2 linked regions of the Homo sapiens genome follow. The protein of the gene in region 2 purifies or fractionates together with the protein of the main gene of each other region. This does not show direct contact. Each region holds a gene or a part of one and is shown on either strand. Other genes may lie near its edges.

Evidence for each region.
Region 1: the proteins of SLA2 (region 2) and DCAF10 purify together in Homo sapiens (affinity purification with mass spectrometry; one large-scale study listed by BioGRID and IntAct). This does not show direct contact.

What each region holds. Positions count from the first base shown.
Region 1 is NC_000009.12:37,842,128-37,845,948, forward strand, and holds part of DCAF10 (DDB1- and CUL4-associated factor 10), read left to right. Parts: coding exon 1-159; intron 160-3,821. UniProt on the Homo sapiens protein: May function as a substrate receptor for CUL4-DDB1 E3 ubiquitin-protein ligase complex.
Region 2 is NC_000020.11:36,629,183-36,633,003, forward strand, and holds part of SLA2 (src-like-adapter 2), read right to left. Parts: intron 3,517-3,821; coding exon 3,413-3,516; intron 1-3,412. UniProt on the Homo sapiens protein: Adapter protein, which negatively regulates T-cell receptor (TCR) signaling. Inhibits T-cell antigen-receptor induced activation of nuclear factor of activated T-cells.

The sequences.
Region 1 (3,821 bases), on a different chromosome or scaffold from region 2:
CACTACAATAGCACTATGGGATCTGAGAAAATTGAACACCAAAGTATGCACTTTACATGGTCACACTAGCTGGGTGAAGAACATCGAATATGATACTAATACAAGACTCTTAGTAACATCAGGATTTGATGGAAATGTCATTATTTGGGACACTAACAGGTTTGTGAATAGGAGACCATGTTAGGATTATGAACAAAAACATTTTTTTTAAAGATGGTGAACAAATTCAGTGTTCTGTCCTAGCCTCAAGAAGGAAACTGGCTTTAGGAAAAGCAACCAAAAAGTGATGATATATTTTGTTAATTGTACCTAGTCATATATTGCAACTAAAAATTTTGGGGAAAATTATACAGGAAGGAGACCAAGTAGTATAGTTAATGATGAAAACTGGCTTATAAAAAAAGAGTTTCCTGAATTTAAGGAAAAATATTTTTGTTATTTCTCCTGTGAAACTAAACTGTTTCTCACTTTTTCTTCCCTCAATTCTACATATATTTATTTTGCAATTTTTGTTCTTTGTTTTCATGCATTAAAAGAGTAGTTCTCATTTGGAATGGTACTGATCTCAAAGGGAATGTTTAGGAATAAAGCGTGGGGCAATTTTGGTTGTCACTATGGGGGAAGAGAACTATCTACTAGCATGTAGTCAGCAAGGACCAGAGTTTCTAAACCTCCTGCAGTACACAGGTCAGTGTGCACAGTGGACTAGTTGTCCCACCTAAAATGCCAGTTATGCCTCTGTTGTGCAACATTCCAACAAAATGTCTCCTTATAAAGAAATTGATATTTAAAGAGTTGAAGTTTGAAAAACAATTAAAATATGCCTGCTTTGCTAGCTATGGTGAAATGATAATATAGTAAACACACCATGATCATTTCTGTGTATATTTGTTTTTGTTGTTGTTTTTGAGACAGGGTCTCGCATTGTCACCCAGGCTGTAGTGCAGTGGTACAGTCACAGCTCACTGCAGACTGGATCTCCCAGGCTTAAGTGATCCTCCTGCCTCAGACTCCTGAGCAGCTAGGACTATAGGCATGAGCCACCATGCCCACCTAATTTTTTATTTTTTGTAGAGACGGGGTCTCGCTATGCTGCCCAGGCTGGTCTTGAACTCCTGGGCTCAAGTGATCCTCCTGCCTTAGCTCCCAAAATACAAGGATTACAGGCATGAGCCACTGTGTGTGGCCATCATTTTCGAAATATTCTTTTTAGAGGTCATATGTAAAAAGAGAGGGGCTATTCTTGGAGATTTCTAGCTACCCATACTCTTTGAGTGGAAGGCAAAAACTATTGGTTATCTTTAGACAAAGACAAGCATACCTACTAAATGAATTTGTTTACTAAAATTTAGAAATAAAATTTGAATAGAAATATAAATGTAACTTCCAAATTAGTAGAGGGTAAAAAACTAATAAAACATGATCAATCCCATAGAAGCAGAGAAGGGAAGGAAAAAAGATAATTATTTAAAAGAACAGGTAAATTAGGAAGCACAAAACTAGTCATATACTGCAACTAAAAAGTTGGAGAAAATTATACAGGAAGGAGACCAAGTTGTATAGTTCATGATGAAAACTAGCTTACAAAATAAATTTCCTTAATTTCAGGAAAAATATTTTTTGTTATTTCACAAAGCATAAAACTAGTAGGCAGATAACCTAAGCTTTAATCCAAATATTAATAACTGTGATAAACGTATATGGGCTAAACTGTCCAGTTAAAAATAGACAGTGTTAGATTAGATTAAAAATAAAACAGAACTGTATTTTCTTTGTAAGGGACACAGTTAAAACATACAAACCTAGAAAAGTTGAAAGTAAAAGGATGAGAAAAAACAAACAATTATACGTCAAAGACAAAACAGTTGTGGCTACATTAATAGCAAACAAAATAAAGTTTAAGACAAAAAGCATTACTGATAAAAAGGTACTATAACAAAAGATTAATTTCACTAAAATATAAAAGCTTGTATGCGCCTAAAAACATAGCATAAAACTATAAAAAGTAAAAGTGGACAGAATTACAAGAAAGAAGTGAGAAATCTCCATCTCAGTGGAAAATATTAACAGCATTCTCTCATTTACTTATCTAGATAAGATAGACAAAAATGGGCCGGGCATGGTGGCTCACGCCTGTAATCCCAGCACTTTGGGAGGCTGAGGTGGGCAGATCACTTGCGGTCAGGAGACCAGCCTGGCCAACATGGTGAAACTCCATCTCTACTAAAAATACAAAAATTAGGCCACGTGTGGTGGCTCACACCTGTAATCCCAGCACTTCGGAAGGCCGAGGTGGGTGGATCACCTGAGGTCAGGAGTTTGAGACCAGCCTGGCCAGCACGCAGAAACCCCATCTCTACTAAAAATACAAAAATTAGCCAGGCGTGGTGGCTGGCACCTGTAATCCCAGCTACTTGGGAGGCTGAGGCAGGAGAATCACTTGAACCCAGGAGGTAGAGGTTGCCGTGAGCCGAGGTTGTGCCACTGTACTCCAGCCTGGGCCACAGAGTCAGACTCTGTCTCAAAACAATAACAACAGCAACAACAAAAATAAATAAAACACAAAAATTAGCAGGGCCTAGTGGCACACGCCTGTAATCCCAGCTACTGAGGCAGGAGAATCGCTTGAACCTGGGAGGCAGAGGTGGCAGTGGGCCAGCCTGGGTGACAGAGTGAGATTCTGTCTCAAAAAAGAAAAATAACAACAACAACAAACAAAAATGGATAAGGCTGTGGAAGATTTAAATATTATTAATAAGCTTGATGTATTACACATATTTAGATTTCTGCTACCAACAACTAGTGAAAACATCCTCTGAAGCAAACTTAGAACCAGTACAAAAATTGAGCATGTACTGAACTACAAAGTAGGTTTCAGCTGGTACCAAAGAACTATTATCACACAAACCATTTTCCCTGTTCTTAGTATCATTTAGTTATTAATTAAAAATTCTCATGTTTAGAGACTTATAAACTCACTTTTAAATAATTTATGGATCAAAGAAGAAATCATACTGAAGACAGGTTGAAAATTGATGAACTAAGCATCTTACTCAAAAAACTGGAAAAAAGTAAAAGGATAAACCCGATGAAAGTAGATGTATGGAAATGATAAGTGTAAAAGCATAAAATTGATGATGTCAAAAATGAAAATATAATAGAGGATTTTTAAAAGCCTGCTCTTTGAAAAAAGCTAATTGAATAGGCAATTCTCTGGCAAGATTCATCAAGAGAAAAAAGACATAAATAACTAATATCAGCAATAAAAAGGAGACAACAATATAGAAGAAGATGATAGATGAGCTTTATCCCTATATACTTGAAAACTTTGATGAAATAGCCAGTTTACTAAAAAAATACACCTTAGCAAAACTGGCCAAGGAAGAAATAGAAAACCTGAAATAGACCTATTACTAGGACTAATATTTAGCCAATATGTACTGGTTCAGCTGAAGTACTGTTAAAAGATTGAACTTCTTCCATACCAATTCGTAAATAGGCACTGCCCTGAGTTACCCTCTGACACCCTCTGACTACCCAGGCCCCTCTTCTAGAGATACCTCCCACAAAACCTTCCCATGATTCAGCAGCAAAAGTCCCCCTTACACAATATGGCGATTCCAGGACCCTGTTCCAGCACAGCCATCTGCATCTATTCTGACTGGCAAGTGTTCATGCGGTGCTTGTTATTTAAATATTCTGAATATCACCTCTGCCACAGCCATTAAAGAAATGGAAAAAATGAGTTAAAAACTACCTACAGTACTAATAAAAGAGCAGGTCTGTCAGTTTTACAGGTGACTTCTACCAAATATTGCAAA
Region 2 (3,821 bases):
CTCCTGAGTAGCTGGGATTACAGGCACCTGCCACCATGCCCGGCTAATTTTTTTGTATTTTTAGTACAGATGGGGTTTCGCCATGTTGGCCAAGCTGGTCTCAAACTCCTGACCTCAGGTGAGGCCTTATGTGGATCTTATGAGTCTTTAAAGATCTTCATGGATCCCGCTGGGCGCGGTGGCTCATGCCTGTATCCTAGCACTTTGGGAGGCCAAGGTGGGCGGATTATCTGAGGGTCAGGAGTTTGAGACCAGCCTGGCCAACATGGCAAAACCCCGTTTCTACTAAAAATACAAAAAAAAAAAAATAGTCCGGTGCAGTGCCTTACTCCTGTAATCCCAGCACTTTGGGAGGCCGAGGTGGGTGGATCATCTGAGGTCAGGAGTTTGAGATCAGCCTGGCCAACATGATGAAACCCTGTCTCTACTAAAAACACAAAAATTAGTTGGGCATGGTGGCATGTGCCTGTCATCCCAGCTACTCAGGAGGTTGAAGCAGGAGACTCGCTTGAACCCAGGACGTGGAGGTTGCAGTGAACCGAGATCGCACCACTGCACTCCAGCATAGGCAACAGAGTGAGACTCTGTCTCAAAAAAGTATAATAATTATCCCGGTGTGGTAGCACTCGCCTGTAATCCCAGCTACCAGGGAGGCTGAGGCATGACAATCACTTGAACCCAGGAGGCAGAGGCTGCACTGAGCCAAAATGTGCCACTTCACGCCAGCCTGGGCGACACAGTGAGACTCTGTCTCAAAAAAAAAAAAAAAGTCTCCATACGGCTTTCTCTTCTCACTCACAGAGTTTTCTCTTTGCATCTGTGTCTTTTTAGGTAAGGGGCAGAGTGGCCATAAGGGCCAGCCACTATATTCTTGGGGCTGACCCAGGCCAGAGAATGGGCCAGGGGAGGGGAGCTGAGCACTGAGCACTTCCTGTGGCTTCTGAAGCTCCAGGGGACAGTCTGCAGTGGGGCCCTGCTCCACTCCGCAACGCTGCTGTGGTTTCCTGTTTGCAGCTGCTGTGCTGGGCTGGCCTCCCCAGCCCCTCTACCAGCCTATGGATGTATGTGAGGTGGGGGTGCTGATGCTGCCTAGAAAATAGCAGGAGGGGCCTCAGAGAGGTCAACCCAAGAACGCCCAAGGGCAGGAGAGGAGAGACAAAGAAGCTGGAAAGGGTCCTGGGAGGGAGACTGAGGCAGAGAACGAAGGGTCCCGACAGCCTATCACAGTTGGTTCATATCAAGGCGGGCGCCAGGAGGTCTGTCCATTCCTGATACCTCCTTCCCTGGTCTGTTGCTATGCTTGCAGTGCCAACATTACTGCCCCACGTGGGCCTTTCTTGGGGGCCTGGAGTGAGAGGAGGTGTGGCTGGGTTTGAATCCTGGCTCTGCACTTACTAGCTGTGTTTCCCCAGGCAAATTATTTCTCTTCCCTAAGCCTCAGTTTTTCCATCTGTAAAATGAAGACAATGGAAGTACAATCCCCATACATTGTTTTAAGTCACTTAAAGGGCTTAACATAAACGTGGGGGCTGCTGCTCCTTCAACATCCCTCTTTGCCTCTGCCTTAAAGGACTCAGGGGCAGCAGCTCAGAGGGAGGCAGGGTCATCAAAGAGACAATCAACTTTGTGTTTTGATTGCAAAAGACCCTGCACCTGGGGTGGGAGAAGCCCCACATGAATGTGCATGTGGCCCGTTCCTACTCCTCTTTGGTCCAGTTTTTCAGTCTGTACAGTGGAGCGAGGAGGATCCATGAGATGACTTCCAGTGGGTTTCTAGCTCTGACTGGCTACTGACCCAAGAGATCCTGTCACCATTTTAATGTTTTGCCAAGAGATCAGAATCATGTTGTGTCTTGGGGAAGGAGGAATCACCTCCTAGTCAACGCAGAGAAATTCTGTGACTATACTCTATTAAAAATCCTAGTTGCCAATGTGTTGGCTGAGCCTAGATCCCTACTGTGGGCCATTCACATTCACTTTTATTTTTTGAAATGGAGTCTGGCTCTGTTGCCCAGGCTGGAGTGCAGTGGTGCAATCATGGCTCACTGCACCCTGGAACTCCTGGACTTAAGTGATCCTCCCACTTCAGCCTCCGAAGTAGCTCGGACTACAGGGATGCACCACCATGCCTCACTACATTTTAAATTTTTTTGTAGAGAAGTGGTCTCATTATGTTGGCTAGGCTGGTCTCAAATTTCTGGGCACAAGTGATTCTCCCACCTCAGCCTCCCAAAGTGCTGGGATTACAGGTGTGAGCCACAGTGCCCGGCCTGTATTATTTTTAGAAATGCAGATTTTTGCTCTATTGCTGATAGGCTCTCATGGCAGCAACATGGCAGATGACAGCCAGACTGCTAGACACCAAGGCTAGGAACTCCAGCCCTTCACATTTGGCCTTCTGCCCCACCCTCAAGTCATATCACACTTGGCTCTTGGCATTGGAGGGGCAAGCCCTGGCATCACTGTGGATCTCAAATAGAGGTATGTTTCCCAAACTCTGTGCCATGGAACACTGGCTTCCAGTGACCCAGGAGCTCCCTGAGAGCAGGGACCATGGCCACCTCACTCAGCAGAGATGCCTAAGGCCTGACACATACAGTAGGTCCTGTCCTTCCCTGAAGCCTCCCCACATCATAGGTGCTGGAGAAGCATTTGCTGAATGAATGAACATGGAGTGACTCTGACTGGTGCTGCATGATGAAACACTCCTGTGTCAGAAACACTTGGGAAATGCCCAGTTAGGCAAACGCGACGCCTTAAGAAGTCTTGTGTTAACACGGATTGTGAACCTCTCAGAGAAGGATACGATTTTCGGGGTCCCCTAAACTGACCCCCCATCTCCTCTACTTCTAAGCAGGTGGCCCACAGAACACACTCAGAGAGTCCCTGTAATGCATCCTCTCGTTTCCCCCAAAACACACGCCCAGCACTGTGTCTCTGCTGAGTAGCAACCCCACTGCCTTGGGAGAAAACCAAAGCTTCTCAGCTCGGCATCCAAGGCCTCTGTGCTGGAGCTTGCTCACTTCTAACCTCCTATTGTCCCGAGGTGCAGCCCACTGGCCCACCCCAGCACCACTGTGTCTTGTTGCCTGGGATCCTGTGGGAACATCCCTCAGGATCCCAGGTCCACTCCTCCAGGTCCACTCATGGTCTATTCCTCCATGAAGCCTCCCTTGATTGCTCCAAAGTTAGCTGCCTCTCCTCTGCTTTCATGGCCTGTCTCCATCTCCCCCAGCCTGGGCTCCACATGGTTCATATGGGCAGGACACGGAGCTGGGGCTCAGGAAATCTTGGTTGACTGAGAAGTCAGGCAAAGCCTATTTTCTGGGCCGCACCTGCAGCCATATATCTGTGGGCTCCTTTCTGAGACCTCCACGTAGGGAGGGCCTGGGCTGGCACCGAGCTTACTCACCTCTCCTGGTCTGGCTCTCCCGGATGAGGAAGGCCCCTCCAGGGTTCCCAGGTAACAACAGCAGTTCCTCTGCTTTCTCCCTGCTCAGGCCCTCATACAGCCACCTGGCGGAGCGAAAGAGAGGGACAAGGGACAGGGTCAGCCTGGAGGAAGAGGGAAGCCAAGATTTTACCACCACCGCTGAGTGACCCTCACAAGGCCCTCCCTCTCTGGGCCTCAGAGTTCTATCTGCTCCACGAAGAGCTGGGCTCAGGGTCTCCGAGGTCCATGCCATTTTTGTCCTCCCAGTCCTGGCTCCAGGGCCCTGGGAGGACAAACTCATGGGGACAGCCTCAGCTTTCTCTGCCTGGAGACCTCATTCCCCCAAGTAACCTGGGTTGGTCCCAGCCTCTCTGCTATCCCTGCTCAG